Linked DNA regions of Homo sapiens: region 2 is linked to region 1. Evidence: fine-mapped expression QTL. Tissue or cell type: tibial artery. Region 1 holds a variant in brackets; the other region holds the start of a gene. All regions are shown on one strand. Distances are between the middles of the regions.

What was found. PIP is the estimated chance that this variant, and not a neighbour inherited with it, causes the effect.
Region 2: TBC1D7 starts here. The variant in region 1 is fine-mapped to the expression of TBC1D7 in tibial artery (GTEx, PIP above 0.99).

The regions. Positions count from the first base shown.
Region 1 is chr6:12,902,422-12,905,108 of GRCh38, forward strand. All of the region lies in intron 4 of PHACTR1 (phosphatase and actin regulator 1), which reads left to right. Among named protein-coding and RNA genes, the nearest start is that of PHACTR1, 190 kb to the left of the region's middle. The variant A/G (reference allele first, on the strand shown) is at 1,304.
Region 2 is chr6:13,327,172-13,329,858 of GRCh38, forward strand. TBC1D7 (TBC1 domain family member 7) reads right to left here and starts at 1,366. Exons shown (of 8, transcript NM_016495.6): 1 at 1,125-1,366. It overlaps TBC1D7-LOC100130357 (TBC1D7-LOC100130357 readthrough), which reads right to left and starts at 1,366. Exons shown (of 9, transcript NM_001318809.2): 1 at 1,285-1,366. It overlaps LOC124901261 (a long non-coding RNA gene), which reads left to right and starts at 1,444. Exons shown (of 2, transcript XR_007059457.1): 1 at 1,444-1,727; 2 at 2,554-2,686. RefSeq lists a silencer at 1,182-1,571 and an enhancer at 1,205-1,711.

The DNA of each region.
Region 1 (2,687 bases):
CCAAAAATAAAGAACCTACTATAATGAGTTTTCCCAACAATCTTCCCCTTACCTTCCAATACTTCTAGGTTCGTCCATTGGATGAACTTCTAGGTTCTTCCATTGGATGAACATACAACATCTCCTCGGGTAAACATAGTGTCAGCTCCATCAACAAACAGTGTCCCAGTTCATCTCTGTGGTATCACTTTTCTCCACATCTTTCCTAGGCTGAGGGGCATAACCTGGATTTTCTTTTCCCAGCATTCATTTTCTTCCTCTTGAATGTTCGATTGCTCCATCAATCAACTGGATGATGATTGAATGAATCAATACATTCATCAATATATGAAGAACATATAACTGGCCTGGAGAATGTGCAGATTCGCTCACTACTCTCTCAAAGCAGGATGAACTATCCATATTTTGATAAAGCTGAACAAACCCACACTGTCCATCTCAACAGGCCACTTAAGACCCCAGCAACCCGGTCCCCAGAAGACACTCAGCTTACTTAGGGCAATGACACCATTTGTCGAGACCCAACCGGCCCCTTGTGACTGCCTTCCTCCATGAGTTCCAAACATCCCTGGTGGCTTTTTCAACTTACGAATTTGAGGTGAAGGAAGAAGAGAAGCAAACGTCTTCATGAGAGGTGACAAAGTGTGGTGGTGAAGAGCGAGGGTCCTGCAGCCAGACACCTGCTTTCGGCTCCCAGCTCTGCCATGCATTACCTGGGAGACTTGGCCACCTTCCTTAACCACTGTGTTCCTCAGTTTCCTTATTTATAAGGTGGGAATGCCGTCAAGGGTTCCTGAGAGGATCAAATGAATAAGGATAAGGAAAGCACTTAGAACAGTATAAGGCACAAAGCAACTGTGTGGTAAAGGGTGGATATTATTAAAGGGAGACATGTCTTCAAGTAGGAGCCAAGAAGTGAATGTTCCCATCACTAATACCAACCTAAAATAGCATTAGTCCAAATGTATCATGCACGTGGTCAGCATAGCCAAAGGTTGCCTCACTGCAAGGTTAAAGAAGAAGCTAAACAAATTTCACTTCCTTACAAGGGCAACAGGACTGGACTCCATCCTTCTTGACATGGGTTGTTTCCTCTTTCCTATTTAAGAATGAGCACATTGGGTGCAATTCTCCAAGGCTCCCCACTGGTTTATTCTGCCCTCCTGGCCTTTGCCCTTAGAAAGGTTTATAGCCTTCTCCCTAATAACTCAGTACATAATCATTAAGAAGCATGAGTAAAATGGGACTTTAATTACTTTATTAAAGGTAATAAATATGTCTATGCCCTTGAGATCATATAAAA[A/G]TAGCTTAAAATCATTGGCCATAGTTATATTTTCCACGAGCTGAGTTTTAAAATATGTATAAAGTCTGTGGTAAATTAAGAGAGATTTCAGCCTACTAACAATTCCTAAACCATTCTAAATGGGTCAGGAATTCAACTGGGATATCTATGATTTTTTTGTTTCTTCTTATTTCCTGATAATGCCATATGTTTTATAATTTAGCATCTTATTAAGGAGGTGAGAGCCTTAAAACTTTTAAAGTCAATTCCTGTTTTTAACTATTAAAAATAATTTTTAGTGGAGAGTTTGCTTATTATTATTTTGACACAATGCCTGCATTCATTTTAAGATTTAGGGGATTACTGAGCTATTCTTTTACATATCTCCAGCATATCATGCAGCATCTGGAACAGAGAAGACATTTTCATTTATGTTTATTAAATAACCAAAACATACATATGAATTAACAAATAAACTATATATAAAGGCAATAGTTAGGGCTTTCTTTTAGCATTTCCTTTTGTCTTTAAACTAGTCTCTTTTATAGAAACTACTCATTACGGCCGGGTGCAGTGGCTCATGCCTGTAACCCCAGCAATATAGGAGGCTCTGAGGTCAGGAGTTCAAGACCAGCCTGCCCAACATGGTGAAACCCCATCTCTACTAAAAATACAAAAAAAATAGCCAGGCGTGGTGGCAGGTGCCTGTAATCCCAGCTACTTGGGAGCCTGAGGCAGGAGAATTGCTTGAACCCGGGAGGCGGAGGTTGTGGTGAGCTGAGATCTTCCCACTGCACTCCAGCCTGGGCAGCAAGAGCAAAACTCCATCTCAAAAAAAAAAAAAAAAGTGAAGAAAGAACAGAAACTACTCATTACAGTAGTTTACTTGCCGTAAGAATCACATCAAACATTAAACCTTTCCACCTTCATTTTCCTAACACCTCTTTGACTTGGGGAAGGATAAATGACTCTTTACCTGCAGGGTGAACCAGCTACATACCCCGAGGCACTGACCCGGACTCAGTCTAGCACAATCAGAACCCCATCCAACCAGCCTAATATGTCATGTAAAGGGCACGGTCTGACTTCTGAGAGAGGTGGATCTCAATCTCATCGCTGCTGCTTCTTAATCCCTTTGAGCCTCAATTTCTTTTTGTATATAAAGGGAACAATAGTGATTTTGTTGAGATGAGGTATGCAAAGTCCCTGGCATGCAGTGAGCACTCAGCAATAAGTGCTATTTATTGGGCCAGGATTCCAACTAGTTTCATAAAAATAGCAGGAAAGTCCAGTGGAAAGCCCACTTGATGGTAGGGGAGGCTTCTACCCACCAACTAATTCCATGTTTCTCAACCCTGCACTGAACGTCAAAATCACCTGGGGAACTTTTGAAAAATTATGATGC
Region 2 (2,687 bases), 420 kb after region 1:
GGTTTCCCACTATACCTATGAGTGCCTAGCACAATAGAACATTCTGTAGCTATTATAAATGCGCAAAGAAAAAAAATAAGTGAAATGGAAGCCAGGCAAGATACGTCAAGCAAATTATACTCAAACAGTATACACTATGATTTCATTTTTTGTTTTTTACAAATTTCATGTATTTTAAAACTTAACACTCTATTCCAAAATGTTAGCAATGGTTATCTTTAGATAGTAGGATTCTAGATGATTTTAATTTCCTTTCTTTTGCTTAGCTACTTTTTTTTAAATGGGCATTTTGTAAAATGAAAAATTAAGTTATATAAAAGTAAAAAGCCACGAGTTCCTCACTTATCTTTCTTTTAAACACAATTCTATTAAGTGTAGCTATCGAAATTCAAAACCCACAACAAATAAATCGCATTAAATTATAACTAGAAGAGGGTAAAGAATGTAGCCAATTGACAGTGATCCCAAAGTCAGAGTTGAAGACGGAAAAACGATTTAAAATCTACCGCAAGAACTCAAAAAGTTCAGTGGTCTCAAGTTCCTTCACAGTAACCTTCATAATACTGGCGGTAATTCATCCAAAAAAAGACCAAGTTAGATTTGGCGTTTCAAGAACAGAAAAGATCTGATGCATTTCCCAAAAAGCACTGCACTGCCTCACCCAAATGCTTCCAGCGTCTGTGCACAAAAGAGTAAATCTTTAGGTTTAAAAACCCTGCGACGTCCCCAGTGAGCAGGGGAGGGCTTCCTTCCTTATTGAAAAGATATCCTCTGAACCGATTCAGTCACAGGAAAGATTAGGATTCGTTTAGAAAATGAAATGCTAAAGGGCTCTGAGCTTTCGGGAGCAGATGTCTTAAAAATAAAAAAGTCAGCAGCATAAAACGCGTAATGAGTGTGGGGATTTATTTTTTTAAAGCATCCAAACAGCTGCATGACGATTTGGTCGGTCCCTGTTGTCTAAGGACACCCATTCTTAGATTGCACTACAATGACAAAGGCGTCCTCTAGGAGGAAATGCTGCAAATAATATCTCCTGCCCATGCGCGTCCACCTGATGGGAAAAGTAAAAACACCCTGGTCCAAGACCCCAGGTCCCATTCTCTCTATGATGGATGCTTCACCTCTAGTAGTGCAAACACACCCGGGTTGAGACTAAGTGGTCCGGGAGAAGCAGAGGAAGCCGTGCCCTGTGCGCTGACCGACCGCCGGGCAGGCGGGCACCGTTGGGGCCCAGGGCCAGGAGGGACGAGTCCTGCGGGAAGGAGGGAGGCGGCGGGGTACCTGGGACACCCGCGCGCGCCCAGACGGCCCGGGAGACAAAACTCAGCGCCGCTGCCGCTGCCGCTGCCGCCGCCGCCGGACGTGACATCAACTCCAGGTCGCCGGGCGGGCGCCGGGCGGGCGCATGCGCAGAGGGCGCGGGCAGGAAGCTCCACCCTCACTCCAGGAAGCTCTGGCTTCGTTTGTGAAACCCGACGGGATGAAGGGCTAGGCTCGCCTCCAGAGTAGTGTAGTTTCTCCCGCCGTGGGCACCCGGCCCCTTGCTACCCCGCAAAATCTCGCGACCATTTACTCTGGCCATCCGAAGGCGCGTGCCTGGGTTGCACTCCCGTGTCCGGCCCTCGAGGTTCTTGCCTAGGGAAGACCCGAGCCCTAGGGCCGTACTTAAGCTGCCTGCGTGCAGGACCCGGGTTTTGCTTTTGCTAATTTCCTCCCCACCCCAGGTATGTGGGAATAGATGAAGACCATCCGAATGAGAAGAAAAAAGGCAGGCAGAGGAGTGCAAGTCTGATTTAGAGCAGGCAGGCTCCCTGGGTTGGTTATTGTAGGTAACTGACTGGTTTTCTGGGCAGGTTGCTGCAGGTTGTGGATTGGAGGTCTATTTTTATATTAGATTTGGCCATTGTCTTAGTATATTCAGCCTCTCAGGTAAAACACTATAACATAGGAGAAAAATGAACGTGTTTTTTTTTTAAAAAAAGATGTGCTAAATGCAAGCTCCTAATTTGTTATTAGTAGGTCTAACAGAACAGAGTTACTCTTTAAAGTAGCTACTAACACTTACAAATGCTTTCTATTTCTGTGCTTGCCTCCCTGGTCCTCGGGCTGGCTGAGCAGCAGTGCCCAAGTAGGTTTTTAAACCGCCAGGGTTTGAGAGAAATCCCCAATGATGGGTATCGTCCCTTTGAAAGTTCAAATCTCTACCAAATAAGCCACACGGATGCCAAGCTTTGAAGGAAACTTAGGACTATCAACAGTGCAGAAGTCCAGTTATAGTGCAGACAAATGTGTGTATAATGGCTAGACAGAACTTAAAAATGAAGAAACGTGTGGTGGTTGAACTCAAACACTGATGCCCCTCCCCACTCCCTTACCACCACCATCTTTAGTTCCTCAGTACTGGGGTACTAAACCTTCCTTGGGTAGTGTTCACATGAGTAAGCAGAGTTCTTCAAGTTACCTTACACAAGTTCCATTTACTTCATCTAAACCTTGGGCCGGTCACTAACTTTTATAATTGCCTTTTCTTGTCTTTAAAATCATCACCAGGGCTGGGCACTTACTGTGTGCAGGCGCTGTTCTATGGACTCAGGATACATCAGCTACCGAAGCAAAGATCCCTAACCTTGTGAAACTGACATTCTGGTGGGAGGACAGATCCAATAAAAACTAAAATAAATAAG